Homo sapiens: one gene and its partners. The protein of the gene in region 3 purifies or fractionates together with the protein of the main gene of each other region. This does not show direct contact. Each region holds a gene or a part of one and is shown on either strand. Other genes may lie near its edges.

What was found. Proteins that work in one complex are often made in the same cells at the same time.
Region 1: the proteins of SERPINA5 (region 3) and HGFAC purify together in Homo sapiens (affinity purification with mass spectrometry; 2 studies listed by BioGRID and IntAct, with this or other methods). This does not show direct contact.
Region 2: the proteins of SERPINA5 (region 3) and FURIN purify together in Homo sapiens (affinity purification with mass spectrometry; 2 studies listed by BioGRID and IntAct, with this or other methods). This does not show direct contact.
Region 4: the proteins of SERPINA5 (region 3) and ZZEF1 purify together in Homo sapiens (affinity purification with mass spectrometry; 2 studies listed by BioGRID and IntAct, with this or other methods). This does not show direct contact.

Annotation. Positions count from the first base shown.
Region 1 is NC_000004.12:3,447,477-3,449,986, reverse strand, and holds the end of HGFAC (hepatocyte growth factor activator serine protease isoform 2 preproprotein), read right to left. Parts: intron 2,496-2,510; coding exon 2,356-2,495; intron 2,093-2,355; coding exon 1,952-2,092; intron 1,860-1,951; coding exon 1,711-1,859; intron 751-1,710; coding exon 568-750; 3' UTR 501-567; downstream 1-500. UniProt on the Homo sapiens protein: Serine protease that hydrolyzes the inactive zymogen hepatocyte growth factor (HGFsc) to an activated disulfide-linked heterodimer, then initiating hepatocyte growth factor receptor signaling pathway.
Region 2 is NC_000015.10:90,875,088-90,878,587, reverse strand, and holds part of FURIN (furin isoform 1 preproprotein), read right to left. Parts: intron 3,007-3,500; 5' UTR 2,848-3,006; coding exon 2,671-2,847; intron 2,334-2,670; coding exon 2,235-2,333; intron 2,127-2,234; coding exon 2,031-2,126; intron 1,693-2,030; coding exon 1,564-1,692; intron 1,454-1,563; coding exon 1,377-1,453; intron 1,062-1,376; coding exon 973-1,061; intron 457-972; coding exon 284-456; intron 1-283. UniProt on the Homo sapiens protein: Ubiquitous endoprotease within constitutive secretory pathways capable of cleavage at the RX(K/R)R consensus motif. Mediates processing of TGFB1, an essential step in TGF-beta-1 activation.
Region 3 is NC_000014.9:94,580,144-94,584,225, reverse strand, and holds the start of SERPINA5 (plasma serine protease inhibitor preproprotein), read right to left. Parts: upstream 2,801-4,082; 5' UTR 2,736-2,800; intron 2,612-2,735; 5' UTR 2,516-2,611; intron 1-2,515. UniProt on the Homo sapiens protein: Heparin-dependent serine protease inhibitor acting in body fluids and secretions. Inactivates serine proteases by binding irreversibly to their serine activation site. Involved in the regulation of intravascular and extravascular proteolytic activities.
Region 4 is NC_000017.11:4,014,031-4,017,530, forward strand, and holds part of ZZEF1 (zinc finger ZZ-type and EF-hand domain-containing protein 1), read right to left. Parts: coding exon 3,341-3,500; intron 2,745-3,340; exon of another isoform or gene 2,603-2,744; intron 2,437-2,602; coding exon 2,293-2,436; intron 486-2,292; coding exon 317-485; intron 159-316; coding exon 60-158; intron 1-59. UniProt on the Homo sapiens protein: Histone H3 reader which may act as a transcriptional coactivator for KLF6 and KLF9 transcription factors.

The DNA of each region.
Region 1 (2,510 bases), on a different chromosome or scaffold from region 3:
CATGGGCCCCTCCCTCCCTCAGCCCCCACAGAGGCAGCCTGTGGCCTCCTCCCTCCCGGGAAGTGCAGCCCAGGCTCAGGCAGGCGGGCTGCCATCTGGAAGACCAACGACGGCCTGCGGGTGTTCCCGTGGGGCCGCTCTTTCTTCTTCAGGTTCAATACTCCGTGCACCACGCGGATCGGACCCCTCCACGCCTGGGGGCCTGGACTTGGTTTCCACTTCCTGCCCTGGGACAACCCAGGTGCTGAGCCCCGGCCTGGGGCTGGCCTGGGAGGGGGCTGGACTCTGCTGGGGCCTGGAGAGGCCCAGACCTCATCCCCTGACAACTCTCTGGGCCGTGGGGCCAGACCCCGCTGTGGGGCCACAGGCTCCGTCTCCACTGAGGACTGTGTGCGCTCCAGAACGGCAGCCTGAGGCCTGCTGCGCATAGACCTGGGCCCCAGTCATGGCCTGGAGGGGAAGGCGGGGCCGCAGGCAGGGGCCAGGCAGCGTGGGCCGGGTTCTTGGAAATATCTTTATTGTCAGCAAGGCAGGGAATGGTGGGAACCAGGGTGTCCCGCTGGAGGGTCAGGAGGGAGCCACAAGCCGCCTGGGAGGCCGTATCCGGTCGTTGATCCAGTCCACATAGTTGGCCACGCGGGTGTAGACCCCCGGCTTGTGGAGCCGCCCGCAGCCGTCACCCCAGCTGATGATGCCGTAGAGGTAAGCCACGCCGTTCTTCTCGCAGGCCAGGGGCCCCCCTGAGTCCCCCTGGGCAGAGACGTTGGTCAGAGCCACCCTCCCAGGGGCCTGGTTCAGGGACCCCCCTCTCCCCCAAGTGGCAGCTTGGGGACAGAGGACAAAGGCATTTCTGAGCAAGGGAGCTGATCCACTCTCCTGAACCTCATGAAAAGGTGTCTCATTCCCTGGGGGCAGCACTGGCTGGGCCAGGGCATCCAACCACGTTATTCCCCTTCCTGAAGCCACGGTCCCCCTCTCCCCACCAGCATGAACCCTGTGTGGACCACACAGCCACCCTGTGTCCCAGCACCTCCTGAAATGACTTCTTCACTCCCTGGAAAACTCCTACGCATCACTCAGGACCAGTGCAAACACTCCCTCCTCCAGGAAACCATCCTGACTTCCCTTATCGAGGTCCAGTGACAAGCCCTACCCACTCTACCACTCCTGGGCTTTGTGGCCTTGGAAGAGTGAATTGACTGCCTGGGGCTCAGTCTCCCCAGCTATAAAATGGGGCATAAGAGAGCCGTCGCATGCCAGGGTTGCCGTGCCGCCTGAGCACACAGGCCTGCAGAGCCCAGGACGTGGTTGGGCTGTTGGGCTTATTGAAGGTTGAAGAACTTATTGAAGGTTGAAGAGCTGGCTTGAGAGAACTCGGGGCAAAGGGGCCTTTGGTGCCTAGTGTCACACGGAAAGCACTGCCTTGGGCTGGACAGCCAGGAACTGTCCGGGCTCTGTGGGACCCCAGGCCCCTCTCAGAGCCTGGGTCTCCCCTTCTGTGTGAGGAGGATGCCCTTCCGGCAGGGCTCTGGGTGGCCCTGGGGTGCTGGCCACCGACAGTAAGTGTGCTCCCTGCCCAGGGGTCCCTGGCTGGCCCTGCCAGGTTGGGGTGCCGCCAGGCTCTGGGCTCCCCAGGGGCAAGCATCTCGGAGACTCAGGACCAGCTGAGCCCCCACCAGTCGGGTCCTGGTGGGGCGGGCACCAGCTCACCTGGCAGGCGTCGGACTTGCAGTCGAAGTAGCCGGCACAGAGCATGTTGGGGCTGATGTCGGCGCCGTAGACCTCAGGGCTGCTGCACTTGTGGTCGGCGACCAGGGGGACCAGGGCCTCCCGCAGGGAGCTGGAGTAGCCGCTCACGTCTGTGGGACACAATGCCCTCAGCGTGACACCCACACTGTGGCTGGCCACTGTCCACCCTGGCGGGGCGCTGGGCGCCCCCCTCCCAACTCACTCTCATCCAAGTGGCCCCAGCCCGCAATCTGGCACTTGTGTCCTGCGGGGAAGGTGCTGCCGGGCTCGGGCAGGCAGATGGGCTGCACGAACTGCGAGCGTGTGGCACAGCGGTCCCCTTTCTTCTTCAGCCGGATCAGGACTGATCAGAAGAGTGGCCAGGGTCAGCCTGTGGTGTGCGGGCTGAACGGGAGGCTGTCGGGGCCCGTGGTGGAGGGAGGGTAGCCAGTGGGGTCCACAGGGCAGCCTGGGAGATCCAGAAGGGAGCGGTGCCCTGTCCTCCCTGCCCTGCCCCCAGCTTCCCCCGCACCACATGTCTGCCCAGCTCCTGCCCCTGTCTGGGCCTGGCCTGGGGAGCACAGGGCCCACCTGCCCAGAGTGCAGCCACGACACGCCGGAGCTCACCGAGGTCGTGGTCGCTGGGGTTGAACACCGAGTACAGGGTGTACGGGATGTACTTCTCGATGCCGAAGGTCTGCGTCACGTCCGTCGTGCGGTTGAAGAAGTGCTGGCCCAGCACCACGGAGACGCTGTCCCTGGGGGGGCTGTGCAAGGGGGGC
Region 2 (3,500 bases), on a different chromosome or scaffold from region 3:
AATCAGACCAAGAGGCCAAGGCGGGAGGATCGCTTGAGGCCAGGAGTTTGAGACCAGCCTGGGTAACACAGCAAGACCTCATTTCTAAAAAAAATGTGTTTTTTAATTAGGCAAGTCCAAGTGGTATATGCACTCTACTCTTCTTCTGTCCCTTAATGTTTCAATAAACATGCTTTGTGTAAAGTTAAACATGAGAATAAATAAAACAAACCAAAAAACACAAGATAGGTACGGAAGACAGCACCCAACCTGCCCGCAGGGGCTGGACAGATCCCCACCTCACCTGGCTAACCCCACGGAAGAAGGCCTCCTCGGCGAGGCGGGCTGGCCCATCCACTGTCTTGCCGTCATCCTCGGGGCCCCAGCTGGCACTGTAGATGTGGATGTGGTTGGGGTTCAGGCCCAGCGAGCGTGCCTCCACTGCATCTGTCACCTCGCCATCCAGCATGCGCACCCCTGGCCGTGAAGGGGGGGCACGAAGAGGGATGCTGCATGGGTCCAGCTGTCAGGGCCCCCACCCCAAGGAGCACACCCAGCCCTGCACCCCAGGGGATGAGTAAGGGAAGGGTGGAGGCTGATGCTGAGAAACCCTGAACCCCCAACTACCTGTTTGCCTCTGCCTTTCAAAGACAAGACCCAGAGAAGGAAAAAGAGAACACCTCCTGCCCCCAACCACACATTCAGGACTAGAAAGAGTCTCTGGTTCCCAAAAGAGCCTGGTGATCAAGGATCTGCCACGTGAGGACTCACAGTGGGTCGTGAGGATTTCAGGAGACTCCTGCTAGGAAACCCTCACTCCACAGGGGTCCAGCTCTTTCAGTCTTTGACCCTTTGGGAACCCTCCATGGAACAGCCACGTGATCAAAGGATCCACAGTGGGAAAGTGGCAGGCATTGGCCAGATGGGAAGTGGGCGGGAAAAATTCCACTGAAGGGCCCTCCTGAAGACAGGGTGGCCCAGGCCCACACTCACCTCCAATGCGGGCGTTGTAGGCCACACCTACACCACAGACACCGTTGTTGGCCACCGCAGCCACTTCCCCCGCACACCGTGTGCCGTGCCTGCCAGGGCCAAGCACGTAGCATGAGTAGAACAAATGGGGTGAACAGGGCCCGGCAGATGTGGCCTGAGGAGCACGAGGGATCCGCACATCCGACACCCATCATCCCCTGAGTACCCAGCCCCCATCTCCCACACTCCACTGGGCCTGTGGCCATCTCCACTCTGACCGAGCCCTCCCTCAGAGCCCCAGGTGGGCCAGGACTGTGGGAAAAGCCTCAGCCTTTTAGGCAAGGCACATCTCACCCAGGCTCAGCCCTGTTCCTTAGTGGAAGAAAGGAGAAGGGAGGCAGAGACCGGGGCCTGCCACTTCTTACCTGTTGTCATTCATCTGTGTGTACCGAGGCTGGGGGTCAGGGTCCTGGTCATTGACATCAAAACTGGCCCCAGGATCCTAAGAAGGATTTGGCCACCATCAGGAGAAGGCTGACCTCACTGATAGAACAAGACAGCCTCTAGACACACCTCAGCAGGGATCACGGCCTCCCTCCCCGACTTCCTCACATAATTGCCTGCCAAGTCCGGGTGGTTCTTCTCGATGCCATCGTCCAGAATGGAGACCACAATGCCGTGCCCTGTGTAGCCCTGCGCCCAGGCCGCCTTCACATTCAGGTCCCGCTGAGTGACACCAGACTGTGGAGACACCCACCCCATCACTTATGAGACATGATTGGTTTTGTGAGGCTAGGAGCATCTTGAAGAATCCCTTTGCCCCCGTAAAACCTCCTCCTGTACCATCCCTGCTCCTGAAAGGCCGCCACTGGCTGTCTGGACTCCATGGGAATGTAGAGGACTCTGGGAGGGCCACCCCCAGGCTTGCTTATTAGGATGGGCCAAGGAGAGACTGCCCAGCAGGAGGAAAGGAAACGAATCAGAGGAGGCCTCGAAGACAGCCTCCTCCATCCAAGAGCTCATAGTGGGTGGATGGTGCATCTGGGGAGGAGGTCCCAGCAGCGAAGAAGGCCACGTACCAGGTACCACTGCTGAGGAAACTTGGGGTCTGTGGGCTCCTGGTACACGTCCCGTTTAGTCCGTCGCTTTGCCACCTGCTGTTCCAGCCACTGTACCTGTGGGGGAGTGAGGGAGAGATGGTGTGGGTGGAGCAGGAGGCGAGAGGGGCTCCTGAGAGCAGGAGGGGGAGGGTGGCAGCAGGAGGGGGCTGGGGCCACACTCACTTGAGGCTCCCTCTGCAGCCGGCTGTGCCGCGGGCGGTGAGGCGACAGGGACCGCTTCGTCACTCCTCGATGCCAGAAGTGGTAATAGTCCCCGAAGATCTGCAATAGAGCAGGGAGACTGAGCTGGGCTTTCCATCTGTCAGTCCCCGGGAGGCGGGGGACGGGGGTGGACAACGGCTTCATGGGAGGCTCGCCACGGTCGGGGGTGCGGGGCATCTGCTCCCTGTCCGGGACCCAGCAAAATGCGGGGACCATGAGGACTCACTCTCACTGGGATATGCTGCTTGCCTGAACCACCTGTGCTTTGCTCATGGCCACCCAGAACATGCCGGCTACCCAGATGCCCCTGAGCAAACAAGGCCAACAGCTCCTGCTCCCAGAATCCCTGTCTTCTCTGGTCCCACCCCCTGGCAGTGTCCTGTGGGGGAACACCTACCTGGCCCAGGTTGAGGAACCCATGCTTCCGTGCCACACTGTTGGCCACCGCTGGGCCTCCAGGGATGCGCACAGCCCACGTGTTGGTGAAGACCTTCTGGCCCTGAGCATCAGCTGCTAGCAGGACCAAGGTTCCTGTTGCTGCTACCACCCATAGCAACCAGGGCCTCAGCTCCATGGGGGGGACAGGTGGCTGGGACCCTGGAGCGCCCGTCTCCTTGGCCTGGTCACAGGGCCTCGGCTCCCAGGTGCCTGCTCACTGCCTGTGGCCCGGGGCTGACTGGTGGGGGCATGGGGCCGAGACGGGCAGGGCTCGGGAGGGTGAAGAGTGCCGACCCTGAGAGGAACAAGAGGGGAAAAGGGGAGAGAGGGTCAGTTCCTCCCCTGCTACGCACTAAAGCTGCCCTGCCCACCCCAAGTTTCAATTGGGGCCTGAAATGAGATCTGGGGGAGAAGGGTAAAAAAATTAGTCCTCCCCAGAAGAAATCTAGCCCCCAAGGCCAGCCACATAGATGGACAGATGGATGCCCTCACAATCCCCCCCAATCCTTTCTCCATGCAAGAATATAAGAAATGTAACAGAAGGGCCAGGCATGGTGGCTCACTTCTGTCATCCAGCACTTTGGGAGGCTGAGGCGGGTGGATCACCTGAGGTCAGGAGTTCGAGGCCAGCCTGGCCAACATGGTGCAACCTCGTCTCTACTAAAAATACAAACATGAGCCAAGTGTGGTGGCGGGTGCTTGTAGTGCCAGCGACTTGGGAGGCTGAGGCACAAGAATTGCTTGAGCCCAGGAGGTGGAGGTTGCAGTGAGCCAAGATCGCGCCACTGC
Region 3 (4,082 bases):
TTGTTTCAGCTACTGAGTGATGGAACCGGAATTAAAATCCAGGTTCCTCTGACTCGTGCACAGCCTGTCTCTGAGTGGCTCTGAGGAGTGATACCTCGTTCCTCCTCGACCTCACCTCCTGGTATCCCCAGGCGGTTCACCTGTATTAGCTCATTTATACTTCTCTACAACAACATGGAGTTAGTATCATTATCCTAACAGTGCAGAAGAAACAGAGGGTCAGAGAGGTCACTCAAGAGGCAGTGGAGTCCTCAGTGCTTGTTTTACGTTTCTTAGTTTCAAATCCAGGGTTTGCCATCGCACTCTTGGGCCTCTGGTGGAAATACATGGCTTTGACAGAGACAGGTGAAGCCCTGGGAGCCTCCCATCCCCCAGACCAGCCTCTACTGAGTGCTTTGAAAGCTTGGTTGGGCTGCCCCTCTCCTGGTCCCTGGCTTTAGTGTTTCTGCAGAGGGAAGAGAGAGGATCAGTCATGTTCACCTGTCATCTCAGGCCAAGGTGAATTGAGGTGGGAGGTGGTGGGGATGTGATGGGTAGGCCCTGGTCAGTCTTCCCGCTGGCCCACCACCATCCCCGAAACCCAAATCTGCTGACTGATATTTCCCGTGTTGGGCAGTGAAGTCCTGCCCAGTTCTACCCTGGACTCAGCTGTGGGAATTGTGTTAGTGAGGACGGTCTGTCCAATATCTTCTAATTACAAAAAGGGATGTGAGGCTTGGAGCCCAGGCAGAGATGAGAGACAAAGTCACAGCTTCCTCTAGATCCTAAAGACCCAGGAACAGAACTTCCCAGAAGAAGTAATCTTGACTTCCTGTTCCACTCCAGCCCATCAGCAAAGCTTGTCCGTTCTATCTCCAAAACAGGTCTTAAAGCTGCCGCCTTTCCCTGGCTTTCTTACTGCCCCCAGTGGAAGCTCCCTTCATCTCCCCCAGGGCTACCCCAGTAGCTTCCTTTCTTTGCCCTGAAAGGCTTTCTATATACAGCATATAAAAGAATCTCCTTCAATCATAAATATGGTCACAGCGCTTCCTCGCCTAAGAAACTCATGGCCAACTCCTGTGTTTCAGATAAATGCTAAACTTTGATTTGTGCTCTAACCCACTAGGGCTGCTGTGACCTGGCTGCACCTGGCCTGGACCTGCTCTGCCCTGGATCACGTGATACCCCCAGGCTCACTCTTCTTTTCCCAGTTTCTCAAACACAGCAAGTTCTGTCCTAACTCTGGGCCTTTGCATACCTTCCCTCTCTACTGGAACCCTCCCCCAACCTTTCTCACTGAGGCCAACTTCTGCATAGGCTGCAGGCTTTTGCTTAAATGTCACTTCTTTGCAATACCTTATCACACTGGACCTTTTCCCCTTCCATGGCTATTCTCTGGAACAGTCCCTTGACTCTTTCTCTCAAAGCTCTTTCAATTACACATGTGCCTTTATATATGCATTTGTCATTGACATTTTTCATTCCGGCCTCTCTCTCCATGGGACCCTCATTTGTGCTGCTCTCACCTTCAAGAGCTTGCAGTCAGGAGAGATGCTCCATAAACCTTTGTAGAATGAATGAATGAATGAACTGACCAGTCTCCTTCTCTGTAATTCAGAGACATTAGACTGCAAGCTGGACACTGAGCAGTGGAAAAAGCCAGGCTGGCCACCCAGAGCTGAGCTCTCCCCGCCCCGGAGCTCACTTGCCAGGTGACCTTGAACAACTCCCTCCCTGTCTCTCAGCTCTGGCTTCCTATTATTTCTTTATTAAAACCACTTGATTGAGACATGACTGCTATTCATAAAGTTGCACATATTTAATGTCTATAACCTGACAAGTTTGGAGATGAGTCTACATCTGTCACTTATCATCACCGTCAGCACCATGAACACGTCCGTTACCTTCAGGCATCTGCCGCCTGTATTCTTCATGCTTCGGTTTCCTGATCTATGAGCAAGGACACTGGCCCAAGGAAGCAGTTTGCTCTTTTATTGCTGCATATCTGGCCAAAAGCCCTACCTTCAGAAAAACTAAAAATTCTGCTTACTTTATTTCTACATTTTGTTCATTTAACAAACTGCCAAATTGTTACTGTCCTTCATGAGCAGCTGCCATGACCGGCCTGGGTGGCAGCCTCCAGGCAAGATGCCCTTATCTCACGGAAGCCGATAATATTGGATCATTGTTCCTGATTTCTAAAGGCCCAAGACTCCAGGCACAGAAAACAACAGAAGCTGCCACTTACTGAGCACCTCCTATCCAGCCGACATTTTGTCCCCATGGCCTTATTTCAGGGTCTCTCAACCTTGATCCTGTTGACCTTTTGAACAGGATGATGCTTTGTGATCTTGTCCTGGGCATTGTGGGATCATCAGCAGCATCGCTGGCCTCTAGATGTCACTAACCCCCACCCCCCTTCCAGTTGTGGCAACCAAATGTGTCTGCAGACATGGCCAGATGTGCTGAGTGAGAGCACCCGCTGTATTTAATCTTCAGTCACACCATCCAGAGGGTGTAATTATTTCCATCTTACCTATGAGGAAACGGAGGCTCTGCCAGAGTTAGTGTGGAGCATAAGGTCACAGAGCTCGGGGGACCCACTCACCTCTGCTGCCTTGGATACCTGAAACTGCAGAGATGAGACTCCTTCAGAGCTTTGCAGACCCCAAACCCCAAAACTCTAGAGTCCATCCTCTCCTCGCCTCACATGCCCTCAAGCCCTGGGGACCTCCCTTTGCGGCATCGGTACTTACTGTGTCCCGTAGCTGAGTGTGCACACAGTGGAGGTGGCAGTCCCTCGGGCTCAGAAAGGGCAGAGGGCTGGCTGGATTGCAGCCAGCATTTGTCACTGACCACAGCCGGCCCTGTCTCCACCCCTCCCTGGCCCCGCCCCGGGACAGCCCCTTCCTTTCCTGGCAGGTTTCCGGCCAGCAGGCCTGCCTGCAGACGCAGCTCCCTGATCCCGAGGCTTTCACCACGATGCCCACTCGCTGCCCCCCAAGCCTTACACCACCAGCTGGGCCATCATTTTCCTGGAATGGCATGGGCACTCCTGAGAGACAAGACCAAAGAGCCTCCCTATTGTTGGCATTCCAGAGACAGGGAAAGGGACAGCTCTAGCAAACCCTCTCTTTTTCCAGGTTCTATTCCTTGGTTTTCTGCAGCTAATTTCTTGTAGATTAGGGGGGGCATATGCTTGAACCTGAGAGCTCCCCACAGGCCTGCTATGCTGACTGGGTCATAGATCCCAACAGTTAGATTCTAGTGGAAATGAGAGGGATTGAGAGACTCACCATGCCTGCAATGAATGGGTCACTGTAGCCAAGCCTGTGATTGCACCAATCACTGAATTGGGGCTCAGAAGAATGAGGGGAATTTTCAAAGTCATGCATTTAATTAGGGGCAGAGTGGGGTTGGTGCATAAGTGGCTGACTCCCAGGCCAGTGCTTGTTGCTGAGAAAGGAGTGGATTCAGGATTTCTATGGGCTTGGGTAGATTCTCCCTTTCTACTTTGAAATCCTGGTTCCCTAACTCAGCCATACACTCTTAAGAGCATTTCCAAGACACCGGTGCAGAGTGCTGTCTCAAGCCTGGTTATGTTTCTAAGGTCCCCTTGCCTGGGGGACATGGTGTGTTGTGCATGGCCGTGATCATGGAAGGTTATGTGGCTGCAGGTGGGGTGTGGAGTTGGTAGAGCAAATCAGAGGTAATACCTGGAAAGTGATTTTGATGTTCAGCAAACACTGTCCATCGACAACCTTTAAGACATTTCCTCTTCCTTCTTCATGGCTTTGGGGCCCAATTATGTGGCTGTTGGATATCCACAGAAATAATAAGAACTAGTATTTATTCACACTTTTAAAAAGACCACCTACTACACCAAGTGCTTTAAACGCATTATCTTTTTTCATCCTTACAATAACCCTTCAAGGGAGACACTGATCTCAGCCCAGTCTAGAGATGAGCACTGGGTATCTAGAGCTAAGTCCAGCTACTACTACATCTCTAGAAGCAAGCACAATACCTACTGGGTATCTAGAGGAAACACAATCACTACTGGGTATCTAGAACCAGGCATGATCACTTCTGGGTATCCAGAA
Region 4 (3,500 bases), on a different chromosome or scaffold from region 3:
ACAGCCATGGAGTGTCCCTGGCAGGCAGATGGTGTGAACGCAAAGCCCAGAGCACACACCTGTCTGGAACCGCCCCAGGTGTCCGGCCGTCACGGTGAATCTGTAGCCCCACTCGGTGTTGCTCATGTCGGAGGTGAAGCGGTAATACAGAGTGTCTCCTAGGCACACAAGGATCAGAGGCCCATCAGGAACTGAAGCAACAGGGAATGGCAGCAGTGGTGTTGGGTTTCAACATTCTCCAGTAAGTTCCCTTCTCAATATTAAGTTTAAACACTGCCTGTGAAGAACCTATCTAATCGAGTATTTGTTTCACTACCTGGAAGTTCAAAATCTTTCCACTTCTGCTGAGACCCGCTGAAGCTGTGTCGGTCTTGCTGGAAGTCACTGCTGCTGGACATGGCTAACTCGTCACAGCCCTCCTCTGTGTTGCACTGAGAGTCGAATTTGATTGAGAGGTAGATGGCACCAGGAATGTGAACTTTATCCTAGGGAGGGGAAATGGAGAACACATCTGTCGATGCTGCTCACTAGACACTGACTGCAGCTGTCCCATGCCGAGTCCTGTGGCTGGACCCGGGTGTGTGAGAATGAGTGAACCACAGCCCTGGCCTCCAGGAGTGCAGAGTCCAGCTAGGGCGAGGAGCATGCACAGACTGCAAATATGGTGCGAGGGAGGCACAGCGGGGCAGGCAACACGGGGCCCCAGAGAAAGAGTGTCAGGCTGCTGTGAAGAGTGAAGAGGACAGGAGGACCCTGTTAGGAGAAGGCGGGAGTGGGAGACAAGGTGGACCTGAGTGCATGGGGTGCATTTCAGACAGGGTAACAGCCCTGTGAAGGTCTAGCATGTTCAGGGAATGGCAAGGAGCTTGGCGTGTTTGGAGTAAAGGGTGTGCTACATGGGCACGTATGCTTGGGAAGCAGGAACAGGGACAAGACCTGACTCCAGAGAGACTGGCAGGGGCAGACACTGAAGGCCCTGGGCATGAAAATGAGGCACTCAGACTCTGGACAACAGGGAAAACCCTGGAAAGCTTTGGTGAGGCTTGCACAGTGTAGCATCACTGACAGCTGGTGTGGAGCAAGGCTGGGCTGAGGCAAAAGTGAGGAAATCAGAAAGTAGCAGCAAAAGGAACCCCAGAGAAGGGCAACGGGTGTCCAGGGTCAGTGGAGAAGACAAGACCTCTTTGGGATCGAACCTGGTGGCTGACCACATGTGCCTGTATGGGACCAAGGGAGTGGGGCTGGAGCCCAGGAACATGACAAGAGAAGAGACTTGGAAGAAAGACAGGTTATACTTCTGAAAAACAAAATCTCAGCTGGCCAATAACCCAGTTCTAAATCGGTTTTCATCATCCACCTTCGCTGCTGCAGGTGCCTTCCACTCAGAAGTAGATGCCTGGGCAACTCCAACATTTCAGTTTTCTCTCCAACATTTTTAAAAGCGCTAATGGGGGCCAGGTGAGGTGGCTCACGCCTGTAATCCCAGCACTCTGGGAGGCCAAGGCGGGTGGATCACCTGAGGTCAGGAGTTAGAGACCAGCCTGGCCAATATGGTGAAACCCCGTCTCTACTAAAAATACAAAAATTAGCTGGGCATGGTGGCAGGTGCCTTTATTCCTGCTACTAGGGAGGCTGAGGCATGAGAATCACTTGAATTCGGGAGGTGGAGGTTGCAGTGAGCCGAGATCACACCACTGCACTGCAGCCTGGGCGACAGAGTGAGACTCCGTCTCAAAAAAAAGTGCTAAAGGGACTACATGGCCTTAAGTCAATGAGAATAACGGAGGCTGCCCCATTCCTGCCTCATCAAAATGCCTACCTCCCTGCCCAGGCACAAAGTTAAGGATGGAAAAGATGAGACTCTGATTCAGTTCTGGGAAATTTTAAAAAGGGGCTGTAGTATCCACGGTGGGGGCAGGTCATGAGGTGGCAGCTGAAGAGTGAGGGTCCAACCTGGACCACATTCAGACTCACTGTCTCACTGTGAAGCCAAGGACTCACTCTGAGGAGCCTGCCGCAGGGAAAGTAAAGCTCTCCTCCAGGGCTAGGTGGCCCATTTTCTTCTATTAAAACAAGAAAAGTCCGGAGAAGAGAAGACTTGCTTGTACAGAATCCCTGGCCTCAGGGAGGCAGACTGCAGTTTGTTCAAGGAAGCACTTTCCTGGACAGGTCTCTGCTGTCCAGCGGGAGAGAGCCACAGAGGGGCTGAGCATGGAGGGGCTGAGCACGGAGGGGCTGACGAGGTCTCTGCGGCTCAGTCGCTCTTATGGGGCCTGCCGGCCCCAGGCTTACCTCGAAGTTGGTGTTGTTGTTATACGGGTGTTTCGACTCCCTCACTTGCACCTCCATTCCTGGCTCCTCCATGAACTGGCATGCAGCCAGGGCCATGGTCCCCAGCATGTCCTCTCGGCAGCCCTGGAGCACTTTCTGCAGGATCTGGTGGGAAGCAGACAGATAAGGTCAGGGCCTGCAAGTGGCATCAGGAAGAAGGGACAGTTTACTTCAACCCAAGCTCCACCCAAAGGTGCTGGCATCATCTTAGACCTAGGACGAGCCTCTGTGACTCCACCACCCAAAACCAACTCCACCAGCCACCTCTCACTTGACCAGGCTCTTGGTGTCAATCAGGACACTGCAGTCCTTTCAGAATGATGCTACTTAGAGGTGGTCTGAAAGAACTAACTGAACCAATCATAAAGGGTCCTGGTCCTTGAAGGAGTCCCCAGCCAAGCAGGTGGATTGGCCTATGGATAAATAATGACCACACAATGTAATCGATGCCTGGAGTGAGGTGCAGGGTTGGGAGCTCTAGGTGGCAAGAACTGTGGGAGGACACGCCTATGCAAGGGCCTAGTAGAGGCAGGGTGGCTCCCTCTGTCCCTTCCGAAAGATAGATATGCTAGAGCAAGCCTGCCAGCACCTGCAGGGCTGCAAGGCCGGGAAAAGACCTCGAGGTCTGGTGGTGTTCTCAGATGGACAAAGCAAGGCTGAGAGGCCAAATGAACTTCCTCATGGACTGCGTGTGTGTGTGTGAAGGTGGGTGAGGGACAGGATCAAAAAGGAGCTACCGAATGTGCCTCAAGATTTCTGCACTTGGAAACTGGGAAGATGGCGACAAAGCTTTCTGGTTCAGCTGGAAATCGCGCTCAGGGCCCCTGAGTTCCTCACTAGCCCAATCCTTGGGAGAGGATACAGTGACCCTACCTTTGCTGCATTCACACCTGTCAGGGAGCTGCACAGCCACACAGGTAGCCTCGCTCCAGGAAGCACTCACTGGAGGAAGCCTGTGGGGCAGAGGAAGAACCTGGTGGGTGAGCACAAGCTCAGTCTGCATAACTACCTTCTCCCACTCATGCTTTTCTTCCAGCTGCATGAACATATCCAAAATGTAGGTCATATGGGCAGGGCCACTGAGCTCCAGGATGTCCTCGCTCACTGGCACGTGGCTAGGCCACTCGGCGAGCAGGGATGCAAGCACGTGGCGGGCGTACAGGACAGCT